3 separate regions of the Homo sapiens genome follow, and regions 1 and 2 are each linked to region 3. The links come from fine-mapping of genetic effects on gene expression. A gene starts in region 3. Each other region holds a variant in brackets. All regions are shown on one strand. Distances are from middle to middle.

The links. PIP is the estimated chance that this variant, and not a neighbour inherited with it, causes the effect.
Region 1: its variant is the best candidate, but not a certain one, in a credible set for the expression of CTNNBIP1 in monocytes after LPS (Fairfax 2014, PIP 0.53).
Region 2: its variant is the best candidate, but not a certain one, in a credible set for the expression of CTNNBIP1 in iPS cells (HipSci, PIP 0.55).

The regions. Positions count from the first base shown.
Region 1 is chr1:9,852,196-9,856,395 of GRCh38, reverse strand. All of the region lies in intron 5 of CTNNBIP1 (catenin beta interacting protein 1), which reads left to right. LOC105376717 (a long non-coding RNA gene) reads right to left here. Exons shown (of 2, transcript XR_946952.3): 2 at 904-1,118. Among named protein-coding and RNA genes, the nearest start is that of CTNNBIP1-AS1, 6.0 kb to the right of the region's middle. The variant G/TG (reference allele first, on the strand shown) is at 2,028.
Region 2 is chr1:9,440,135-9,444,334 of GRCh38, reverse strand. No RefSeq gene overlaps it. Among named protein-coding and RNA genes, the nearest start is that of LINC02606, 13 kb to the right of the region's middle. The variant T/C (reference allele first, on the strand shown) is at 2,318.
Region 3 is chr1:9,908,366-9,912,565 of GRCh38, reverse strand. It overlaps CTNNBIP1 (catenin beta interacting protein 1), which reads left to right and starts at 2,297. Exons shown (of 6, transcript NM_020248.3): 1 at 2,297-2,471. RefSeq lists enhancers at 356-1,028, 1,029-1,702 and silencers at 1,850-2,449, 2,460-2,519, 2,690-2,749.

The DNA of each region.
Region 1 (4,200 bases), 56 kb after region 3:
TTTTTAATCTTGATAAAGTTCTCTTTATTTATTTATTTTTTTCTGTTGCTTGTGCTTTAGATATCATAACTAAGAAACCATTTCCTGCCAGGCGTGGAGGCTCATTCCTGTAATCCCAGTACTTTACATGGCAGAGGCAAGAGGATGGCTTGAGCCCAGGAGTTCAAGACCAGCCTGGGCAACATAGGAAGATACCCCATCTGTCAAAACAATTTTTCTTTTATTTATTTATTTCTTATTTTTTTTTTGAGACAGAGTCTCACTCTGTCGCCCAGACTAGAATGCAGTGGTGCGATCTCAGCTCACTGCAACCTCCAGCTCCTGGGTTCAAACAATTCTCGTGCCTCAGCTTCCCGAGTAGCTGGGACTACAGGCATGTGCCACCACGCCCAGCTAACTTTTTGATATTTTTAGTAGAGATGGGGTTTCACCATGTTGATCAGGCTGGTCTCAAACTCCTGACTTCAAGTGATCTGCCCACCTTGGCCAAAAAAAAATTAATTAGCCGAGTGTAGCAGTGTGGGCCTGTGGTCCCAGCTCCTCAGGAGGCTGAGGTGAGAGAATCAATTGAGTCCAGAAGGTCAAGGCTGCTTTGAGTGCTGATTGTACCACTGCACTCTAGCCTGCGTGACAGAGCAAGACCCTGTCCAGGAAAAAAAAAAAAAAAAAAGCATTTCCTAATCCAAGGTCATAAAAATTTGTTTCTATATTTTCTTCCAAGATTTTTATAACTTTATCTCTTGTATTTAGGTCATTTATCCATTTCAGGTTAATTTTTTTAGATGCTGCAAGGTAAGAGTCCAATTTCATCCTGTGCATGTGAATATCCAGTTGTCCCACCACACATTTGTTCATTTCTTCCCCACTGAATTGTCTTGGCACCCTTGTCAAAAATCAACTGGCCATAAGTTGGAGGGTTTATTTCTGAACTCTCATTTTTGTTCCACTGATCTATATGTCTGTCCTTATGCCAGTACCACCCAGTCTCGTTGACCTTGCCTTTGTAGTAAGTTTTGAAATTGGGAAGTGTGAGTCCAACTTCTTCTTTTTCAAGGTGGTGTTGGATATTCTGGGTCCCTTCCCTTCCCATATGAATGTTAGGATCACCTTGTCAATTTCTACAAAAAAAAAAAAAAAAAAGGCAATTTTTACAAACTCCCCAAGAAAGGGATTTTGATAGAGATCATGTATTGAATTTTATTCAGTAATGTTGTGTACTATTCAAAGCATAAAAATTTGCACTTTGTTAAATTTGTTCCTAAGTGTTTTATTATGATTAATGCAATTATAAGTGGAATCATTTTCTTAATTTTACTTTGATTGTTCATTGCTAGTATATAAAAATACAATTGATTTTTGTATATTGACCTTGTATCCTGTACCTTTAACTTGTTTATTAGTCCTAATAGTTTTTTAGTGGGCCAGGTGCAGTAGCTCAAGCCTGTAATCCCAGCACTTTGGGAGGCCAAGGTGGGCAGATCACTTGAGCTCAGGAGCTCGAGACCAGCCTGGACAACATGGCAAAACCCCATCTCTACAAAAAATACAAAAATTAGCCAGATGTGGTGGCACACACCTATAGTCCCAGCTACTCGGGAGGTTGAGGTGGTAGGATTGCTTGAGCCTGGGAGGCGGAGGTTGCAGTCAGTGAAGATTATGCCACTGCACTCTGGCCTGGGTGACAGAGTGAGACCCTATCTCAAAAAAAAAAAATTTTTTTTTAGTGGATTCCTTATGATTTTCTACATATAAGATCATGTCATCTACAAATAGGGATAGTTTTACTTCTTCCTTTCCAATCTGGATGGCTTTTATTTCTTTTTCTTAACTTACCTAACCTGGAATGGACCTCAAGCCAATATTGAATAAGAATGGTGAAAGCGGACATCCTTTTCTTGTTCATAATCTTGGTAGGGAGAGTTTTCACAACAAATATGATAAGAGCTGTGGGATTTTCATAGATGCCGTTTATCAGATAGAGGTTGTTCTCTTCTAGTTTGTTGAGTGGGTTTTTTTTTTTTTTTTTT[G/TG]AGATGGAGTTTCACTCTTGTTGCCCAGGCTGGAGTACAATGGCGCGATCTCAGCTCACTGCAACCTCCACCTCCCAGGTTCAAGCGATTCTCCTGGCTCAGCCTTCACAAGTAACACAGGCATGTGCCACCATGCCCAGCTAATTTTGTATTTTTAGTAGAGATGGGGTTTCACCATGTTGGTCAGGCTGGTCTCGAACTCCTGACCTCAAGTGATCCACCTGCCTCTGCCTCCCAAAGTGCTGGGATTACAGGCGTGAGCCACTGCACCTGGCCTTGTTGAGTGGTTTTATTATGTTGGATTTCATCAGCTGCTTTTCCTGTATGGTTTTTGTCCTTTATCCTATTGATATGGTGTTTTACAGTCATTGATTTTCAGATGTTAAACCAACCTTGCATTCCTGGGATAAATCTCACCTGGTCAGGGTATAGAATCCTTTTTATATGTTGTTGTATTCAGTTTGCTAGCATTTTGTTGGGTATGTTTGCATCTATATTCATGTGAGATACTCATCTGTAGTTCTCTTTTCTCATGATACTGTCATCGGGTTTTGGCTATCCTTATCTTTTAATGTTTTTGAGTGTGGAACAGGAGACACAGATCAACCTCTCCCCTCCTATGCTCACTTGCATCTGGTGGGAAGGGACAAATAGAAGCTCTGAGCTCAAGTTCAGACAGTGTCAACAGAGATACCAAGGGGGGAGACAGAGCTTCATCTGTAAAACAGGGTAGGAAACCCAGCTGGCAGCCTGGAGGCAGTGGGCTGGCCTGCTGCCCTCTTTGCTGTGCATCCAGGACAGCGAGACTACCTGAGGGAGCTGCCATATGCTGGTCTTCAAAGGAAAGACTGTAGGACTCAACCTCTGAGGTCCCTCCTGGCTCTAAAACTGCAGCTCTGAGGGATCGAGTCATGATCATAATCTAACAGCTCACCCTCCCTATTCGGTAACTGGCCCAAATTTCATAGAGAAGAGGAAAAGGGGAACCAGTGTCCTCGGCCAGAGGCCTGTCAGGTTCATGGTGAGACCTCATTGAATGACAAATACCTGGCCAACCAGTGACAAGGGTAGGTCAGAGAATGCTCTGGAAGAACTGAGAGCCTGCCTTCTCTTTCATCCCAAAGGAAAGCAGATCCTTGTGGTAAAGCCTGGATAATATCCTTAAGGAACAGAAGAGAGCACAGACAGGCCGCAGCTCCTCAGGCCTTTTCCTCTCTGCAGGGCTCCAGCAGCACAGTGGGAGGCTCTATAAATGCCACCAGGGAAGGGGGTGGCAGCTGGCAGTGTGGGAAGGGTAGGACTCTTGCAAATCCTTTGCTTCAAGTGTCTTGTTAAATAGCCATCAGAGTCCCTGTGTGACCTGGAGAAGATTACTTCCTTCCCACCCTCAGAGCGCAGGACAGGCACACACACTGGGCAGGCTGTGGAGTCGGGAGTCCTGGTCCCCAGGTCTGGGCTCCTCTGAGAAGCCAATGGCCCATTCCCTCTGTAGATGCACCATTCCCTCCTGGGGCATCCAGGGCTATTTTTGTGCCTGCAGCTCACTACAGAGGCCCAAGGTCCCTGAGCGAAAGGCCACAGGGCAGGCAGGGAGAGGAGTGAGCGGGCTGCCACCATCACTGCCACTAAGGCATCTTCTGCTGACAACTCCCCTTTCACAGACTCTTGCCAGCCCCCTTCTGATTAGCAAGCTGGGCAAGCAGCACTCAGGAAAAGTCGGCATCTGTTAGGTAACCAACTCAGCTGCCGTGCAGGGGATGATGTAATCTTGGATTCTGTGGTTGCTAGGAAAATTCTGCCTGCAGTGATATTGCGTGGTCCTAGGGCTCAGGCGAAAACAGAATGTTCCTGAGAAGACGGGAAGGATTCATAGGGCTTCCCAAGCGAGGGTGCCCCATCCTAGGAAGCTGGACAACTCGTGTCCCTTTCTAGATGCTTATTTCCCTTCTGAGCAATGGAGGTTGTGCTGGTAAAGCCAGAACCCCATGAAGGCGAGCTGGCAGTGGGAGGTGACAAGGCTCATTCCCTTAGCAGCACCTTGGTTCTCTAGTGCCAAGTGGAAGGTGTGTCTTGTGCATTGCATCCTTGTAGTTGGGCCCTCCATCTCTGGCCCTCCCGACAGCTGGGTGCGTCCTCCCTCTCTTGGTAGAGCAGTTGGAAGGAGGTCAGCACA
Region 2 (4,200 bases), 470 kb after region 3:
ACAGACATTTCTTCAGGCCACTTCACCTTCCTCTGCTTACAGCTCCCTCCGGGCAGGCGCGGGGCCTGCCTGTGCTCATCCTGCAGGCAGAGAACATTGCCAGGTCAGCAGTATACACCGTCCCCTCAGACACAAGGAGTATTATTTAGTCTAGAAACTCTCAAAGGAAATATCCGCTTGCACGTGAAAAATCTCTGGAATTTCTCTGTTCCTCTCTGTCCAACGTCCTTGTATCTGCAAAACCTCCTTGAAAAGCTCCTGTGTACAACTGCTGCCTTGTTCGGGCCCGACTGCTTCAGGCCTGACCCCAGGGCACTTCTGTCCCAGCCAGTGTCATTCAGAGCGATTTCTGCTCCTCCAAGACGGGCTGTGCCCATGGTGAAGGAAAGAGGAGGGGTAAGGGGAGAAGGAGGTGGGGGGATGAGGTGAAGAACAGAGAGGGAGGAGAAGGAGGGAGAGGAAGGGGAGGACCCTCTGAAGGTCAGAAGTGAGATGTTTTACAATTTTTTTTTTTTTGAGACAGAGTCTCAATGTGTCACCCAGGCTGGGGTGCAGTGGCGCAATCTCGGCTCACTGCAACCTCTACCTCCCGGGTTCAAGTGATTCTCCTGGCTCAGCCTCCCAAGTAGCTGGGATTACAGGTGCCTGCCACCATGCCTGGCTAATTTTTGTATTTTTAGTAGAGATGGGGTTTCACCATGTTGGCCAGGCTGGTCTCGAACTCCCAACCTCAGGTGATCCACCTGCCTTGGCCTCCCAAAGTGCTGGGATTACAGGCGTAAGCCCCCACGCCCAACCCATTTTACAATCTTAAATTCCCAGCCCTTGACTATTTTAGCCTTGTCATTTCTCAGTCTATAATTAAGGTGATGAAGATGTGTTTGGATGTAGAAGATAAAAAAAACTATGGGCTTGTTTCCCAACATCCCTGTCTCAGTCTCGGTGTCTTCCTTAAATTGCTTTTGCTGTGCATTCCCCCATTTCCCCGTTTCTAGCCTTTCTTTACCCCACTTCTAAATTCTCCTTCCTTTCTTGAGCCCCTCTCTCCCCAAGAGACAACTGATGGTGACAGATCTGGAATTTGATAGGATCTTGCTATGTTGCCCAGCTGGCCTCAAACTCCTGGGCTTAAGTGATCCTCCTGCCTCAGCTTCCTGAGTAGCTGGGACTACAGGCACCACCATCACGCCTGGCTCAGATCTGGAGTTTCTGATTAGGCATGCTGGGACCCAGGGGAGTGTCCAAAGGCCTCACCCAAGTGGTCTAGGAAGGCGCATGGCCTTGAGTACCTGCCTTTGCCTTCTTTGTACCATGAAGACAGGGAAACCTGCTTTCCTCCTGTCTCCCTGGCCGGTCCATGCTCCTCACTCCCAGCATTGTTTCTCAGGCCATCTTGTATATCTACCCAAGCCGTTTCAGCAGCAAAGACAAAAGACCACTACCTCCCTGCTCCTTTTATAAATGGCTTTTATAACTGTCCTTCTCTTCATGCCAGCAGGCTGAGATAAACCGGACTAACAGAAAAGGAGAAGGTGCAAAAAATCCAAGGGAAAGAGGGTGCCCTTTGGAAAACAAGCACTACTCAAGTGCCAGGTGTGAAGGTTTTAAATAGAAACCTGCTTACACTGCACTTAGAACAACAACAGCTGGCACAGCGAGGTCCCAGTTCTTTTCAGAAGATGAACATTGAACTTCCAGATAATTCTGGGGCAGTCACATGAGTTCACCATAGCAAATGCTATAGCTCGGCGGCCCATTCTGCCTGTGCATCTCAAACTTCCACTTTAGGAGTTTATCTTCCACATTATAGGCTAACCCTCTCACTTTCCAAAACACAATGACTGTTTTTCAAAATGTGGTCATACGTGGGAATTTCATGACATCATACCCTTGAGAATGTGAAGCTTCGGTCTTAAAATACTTGATGGGGCAAATAATAAACCTCTTGATTTTTTTTTTTTTTTTTGAGACAGGGCCTCACTGTCGCCCAGGCTGGAGTGCAGTGGTGTGATCACGGCTCACTGCAGCCTTGACCTCCCAGACTCAAGCAATCCTCCCGCCTCAAGTGATTCTCCCACCTCAGTGTCCCAAGTAGCTAGGACTACAGGTGTGCACCAGCATATTGGCTAATTGAAAAAAAAATTTTTTTTTTTTTGTAGAGACAGAGTCTCACCATGTTGCCCAGGCTGGTCTCGAACTCCTGAGCTCAAGTGATCCTCCTGTCTTGGCCTTCCAAAGTGCTAGGATTACAGGCGTGAGCCCCCGCCCCCAGCCAGAGCTCATTTCTGAAACTGACTGGCACAAGCTCAGGAGACTG[T/C]GCTCAGGAGGCATAATCAAGTATTCATATAGGCCAAGGCTTGGTGCTGTAGTCTCTCTGATCTGGAAATATTTTCCCTTCCGACAGGAATAGAGAGGTTACTTTGGGGTCACTTGCCAGCTCACAAAAGACTTTTTCAAATGAGACGAAAGAAAAGAAGTTCCAATTTGTTGGGAGAACACTCGTGAGCATTGGGATCACAAAGCCTGGTGAGCCGCCAGCCCCACTGTATCTCTGGGCAGGGAGGGTAGTGAGCCCCCAGGGCGAGCGGGTGAGCACCACGGGTTCCAGTCGGTGGAGGAGGCGCCGGAGGCCCCTGCTTCCTCCAGGTGTCCCTTACACACACTTTCCAGTCAGGCTCTTGGCTCAGGCGCCGGCCCTTTCCCGTGGCATGGGCATCAGCTCTCCAGCCCTCTCTGCAAAGCCGGTGCGATGGCTGCCTGCCTGCCTGTGGTTGCCTCGCTGACAACTCCGCCAGTTCAAGAGCTCTGTTAATGATCAGGGGAGGGTGACGGCATTTCAGATGCATTTCCTCCTAGGAGCTCAGAAAAAGCCAGGAGCAATTGGCCCCAGTGGAGCAAACACCTGGGTTCCTAAGTCATGGAAGGCTCTGCCTTTCCTGGGAATGACCCCACTTTCCCACATCTGTTGGGAAAGCTGATATATGAAGTCAGAAGGGCAGCGGGGTGGAGGGAGACAGCAAAGTGACATTGCATCGGCCCAGCTCCTCAAAGCTCTCGGAGGAATCAGAAGACACAACGATTCCTTTGAGTTTAAAGAAGTTTAGTTCCTCCATCACTGGAGAAACATTTGCAAAAGCATCCAAGACTAGTGCCTGGTGTGCAGTGGGCACTCAGTAAATGCTGCAGGGTGGACATGCCTGGCACTGTGCTGGCACCAGGCTGTGGCAGTAGGCGAGAGTCAAAAATCCCTGCCAGGCAGAGCTGGCACTCCAGAGGGGGAGGCAGATAAGGAACAAGTAATGTGCTATTTCAGATGGGGATAGAAGCTGGGGGAATCACGTGTGGAAGAACATGCATGCAAGTGCCTGGGGAGGGGGCATATGTCAGTCAAGCCTGAAAGGAAGGGAGGGAGCTGTGGGGATGGCCTCAAGAGTGTTCCTGCTGGAGGGAAGGGCATGTGCCAAGATCCTGAGGTGGGTGTGTCTCTGGTGTGGATGGGCATCAGCAGGGCGGCCAGTGCAGCTGTGCCAAGTGGGTAGACAGCAAAGGTCATGAGGCCAGGGAGGGGGAAGAAAAGAGCTTGGTTTAGTGCCTGCTACGGTTTGAATGTGTCCCCCAACATCCATGTGTTGGAAACTTGATCCCTAATATGGAGATGTTGGGAGGTGGGACCTTTCAGAGGTGTTTAATGGATGATGAATTAATGCCATTATTTCAGGAGTGGGTTCCTTATAAAGCAACGAGTTCAGCCCCCTTTGGTCTGTCTTTCTCTCCCACCCACTCCTGCCCGTCCGTCTTCTGCCATGGGATGATGCAGTAAGAAGGCCCTCGCCAGATGCTGGCGCCTTGATCTTGGACTTCTCAGCCTTCAGAACTGTGAGAAATACATTTCTGTTCATTATGAATTACCTAGTCCCAGGCATTCTGCTGGAGCAGCACAAAACAGGCTAAGTCAGAGCCATATCTTCAAAAACTTCCCAAAGAATATTCAAGGGAAAAAATAATTTTAAAAGATTATAAAATGAGGCTGGGTGTGGTGGCTCATGCCTGTGAGCCCGGTGCTTTGGGAGGCGAAGGAGGGCAGACTGCTTGAGCCCAGGAGTTCGAGACCAGCCTGGGCAACATGGCAAAACTCTGTCTCTACAAAAAATACAAAAAAAATTAGCTGAGGGTGGTGGTGTGCACCTGTAGTTACAGCTA
Region 3 (4,200 bases):
AAAAGAGCTCCCTGTGATCAAGGAACAGGCACAAGGCCCATATGTGGCTAGAGCCCAGTTGGCAAAAGTGGTTCAAGATCAGGCTGTAGCCAGATCCTGTAAGGCCTTGTTGCCACACTAAGGACTTTGAACTTCCTCGTGAAAATGAAGAGAAGTCGTTGAATAGCGCAGGTCTGACAAGATTTTAAGAAGTTTCCTTTAGTTGCTGTGTGGGCAGTGAATGGGGGCGTAAGGAGAGCCTAAAGGAGAGACTGCTTGAAGGGTTATTGCAGGAGTCAAGGTGATAGCTGGTGGCAGGTTAAACTGGGAAAGAGGGGTAGAGATGGTAGGAGGTGGAGAGATTAAGGACACCATTTAGAATTGGAAACAACATGGACTGGAAATGAAGAATAAAGGAAAGAGTGGTGTCAACGGTACAATTTAAGTGTCTGGTGTAAGCAACTGGGTAGAGAGTGGTGCCAGTTACTGAAGGTGGGGACACTGTAGGAGAAACCCACTTGGGGACCAATTTTTTTTTTTTTTTTTTTTTCAGACAGAGTTTCGCTCTTGTTGCCCAGGCTGGAGTGCAATGGCGCAATCTCGGCTCACTGCACCCTCGCCTCCCGGGTTCAAGCGATTTTCCTGCCTCAGTCTCCTGAGTAGCTGGGATTACAGGCATGCGCCACCACGCCCGGCTAATTTTTGTATTTTTAGTAGAGACGGGGTTTCTTCATGTTGGTCAGGCTGGTCTCCAACTCCCGACCTCAGGTGATCTGTCTGCCTTGGCCTCCCAAAGTGCTGAGATTACAGGCATGAGCCACTGCGCCCGGCCGGGGACCTATTAAGTATGAAAAAGTGTGAGCAGGCCGGGTGCGGTGTCTCAGGCCTGTAATCCTAGCATTTTGGGAGGCCGAGGCGGGCAGACCACTTGGGGTCAGAAGTTGGAGACCAGCCTGGCCAACATAGAGAAAACCCGTCTCTACTAAAAATACAAAAATTAGCCGGGGCGCATGCCGGTAATCCCATCTACTCAGGAGGCTGAGGCAGGAGAATCGCTTGAACCCGGGAAGCGGAGGTTGCGGTGAGCCAAGATCGCGCCACTGCACCTGAGCCTGGGCGACAGAGCGAGACTCCCTCTCAAAAACAAAAAAACCCCCCAAATGAGTAAAGAGTAATGTGGATATTATATTATAAACGAACAAACAAAAAAGGACTTCGTATTCTTTTTGCATAGGGAAGGGGAAGAAATGTGGAGTGGAAGAGGATGGTACAGAAAAGGTGTAAAAAGAAAGGCTGTGGGAGGAGTAGGGTAGGAGGGCTTCTGAACTGGGGTTAGTGTCACACTGTGTAACTGATAATTTAAACTGCTGAAAATGAGACCACACTTAAAGATACAGGTCCCTTTAAAAGGAAGGCGGATGTTAAAAGCAATTTGCATTTTACCTAAAATGGGCTGCTTCTCCCTGTACCCTCTCCAAATACAGCCAGACTTTCTGTAGAAACATTTTAATCATGGGCACCCTTCCCCCGAAAAATCCACTCACTACCAGTACACACGACCTTCTGAGTTTAATGGACCTACGGAGGCCCATCCCTGGGCTCTCTGGGCTAGGTTAATCCCAGGTTAGGCCCCAAGCTCAGAGGTAGCAACGTTCCCAGCTCAACGACGCAGGAAGACCACGCCTCTAAATGTTCTGCAACCTCGTCCATTTCAGAATTTTCCGGGGTTCTGGGTAAACTGGCCTCACCAAGGATTCTGCCCCGTCTTGTTGCTCCCGTTTTTAAACACAGACCGGTGTGTGGGAGAGGCCATTATTTTTCCGGAACACTGTGCTCCTGGAGCAGATAGGGACACGCAGAGTGGCTTTACCGCAGCGCCAGCTTCAGCCTTACCCGGCTCCTCCTCCAGGCCACCGCCTCCTCCTCGCGCCCAACCCGCCTTCCCTGCTCACCCCCGGCCCGCTCCTCCCCTTTGCTCTCAGCGCGGACTCGGCCACTCACTACCGGCGCCGTGTTCCACCCGCCCACCGCATGGCCCCGTCCCTATGTCGCTGGTCTCGCCCCCTTCCAGGAGGGCCCAATGAGCGTTCACATGCGCCACAAGGCCCCGCCCCGCACCGCGCAGCCCCGCCCACAGGCTGAGTTAACCAATTCGCGGCCCCGGGCCCCGCCCCGCCCGCAGGCCCCGCCCCGGCGCCCGGCCCCACGCGCCCGCCTCCCTCCGGGGCGTTGCCGCCGCCGCGCCTCAGCAGCCCGCGCGGAGCCAGATGCCGCCCCCTCCGCCGGTCCCTCCCCCGGCGGCCTGGCGCCTCCCTCCCTCCCCACCGCGGTGACTCTCGGAGCGGGAGGCGGAGGCTGAGGCGGCCGCTCCTGCTGCTGCTACTGCCGCCGCCGCAGCGGCTGCTCGGGCTGAGCACGCCCCGGAACAGGCCGCCGCGCGCTGCGCGCCGGACCCGCTGCCCCTGCCGGCCCGGCCGGGTCGGGCGGCCCAGGTAAGCGCCGAGGCCGGGCCGCGCCTGCACCGCCCGGGCCCGCGCCGCGCCGCGCCGGGGCTTGGGGGAGCGGCCAGCCCTTTGTCTGCCGGGGAGGGGCCGCGGAGAGCGCCCCCGACCCCGCTCGGACCCCTGACTGCCCCAGCGGCGCGGCGCCCTGGTCTGGGCCTGGCCGCCTCTCGCCGCAGACCACCTCCCGCCTCCCTGACTCTTCGCCCGGGGGTCGCCTCCACAGGTGTCCGCGCCGCCCACCTTGTTGCTCACCTCACCGCGTCCGGGTGCCTGTCATCGCCCGTCCGCCCTCCCGACCTCTGGGCCCCTGCCTCTTCCCTCACCTGCGCCCACTCTGAGACTCTTACTCTCCATATTTCCCCAAACTAAACGCTGGGCCGCCCTTCCTCCCTCTGTAGTTTGATTGAACTGTCGTCTCCCGATTCCACCCCTCCCCGGTGAGCCTTCCTGGAAGGTACCTGGTGGGGGCACATATCTCACCTGGATGGCGGGCGTGTATGCACGAACCTGCAAAATTAACCACCTGGAGCCCCAAACTGCACCTCTCACCTCCTTTTCATCACCCCACCCCAACCACCTTCCTTTTTTTGGAACCTGGTAACCGAGACACTCAGGTCTGGACACCCAGCCTCTGCTAGGCCCTCCATCCCTCCCTCTGCCTTGTGAGCTGAACTTGTCTGAGCAGTGCCTGTTGTCAGGTTAGCCCCTGGGAAGGCGGCGGGGGCCGTGTTGGCCGCAAATCAAGAGTTTTATGAATAATGAGACGTGTGGCTTGCACCACCTCCTGTCTGAGGATCTCAGTATGCTCCAGCTGTGAATTATTTTGTCTCCTGTCACTCACAGAACTGAGAGGAACATGTCTGGCCAACTGCTGGGTAAATTGAGGTACAGGGTGTGTGGGTAAGGGACCTGGAGGCAAGTCATGGTTTGTCTTGAAGTTCTGTTCGCAGGAGCCTTGGCTCTTAGCTCCCTGCTACAACCACTGGGCTCCAGTTCCTGGAGTGTGTCCCCAAGTGATAACTGATCTCTTGTGCCATTAAAATGTCCAGAGATACCAGCAGCTTCCTCAGATTTAAAGTAGGACTTTGGATCATAAATAAAGGTGCGGGCTGTTAAATGCCAATGTGTCATTCACGGTTTGCTGGGGGAGTTCGTGGTCCTCCCTTGTAAATACAAATCACCTCTATGGGATGGAGATTCATTCATTCAGTAGTGAGCATTTACTATGTGCCAGGCACCGTTCCAAGTACTGGGGCTTTAGTGGTGAAGACAGACACGGTTTCTGCCCTCCTCAGAGATGACATTTTAAAGAGGAGGAAAGTCAGACAATAAGTGAGTAAACAAACAAGTGGACAAAATAATTTCAGTAGTGGTAAGTGCTATGAAGATGGAGAGGGGCCAGATTACATATAAGAATCTGTGGCCGGGCGCGGTGGCTCACGCTTGTAGTCCCAGCACTTTGGGAGGCCGAGGCGGGCGGATCACGAGGTTAGGAGATCGAGACCACGGTGAAACCCCATATCTACTACAAATACAAAAAATTAGCTGGGCGTGGTGGTGGGCACCTGTAGTCCCAGCTACTCGGAGAGGCTGAGGCAGGAGAATGGCGTGAACCCGGGAGGTGGAACTTGCAGTGAGCCGAGGTCACGCCACTGCACTCCAGTCTGGGCGACAGAGCGAGACTCCGTCTCAAAAAAAAAAAAAAAAAAAAAGAATC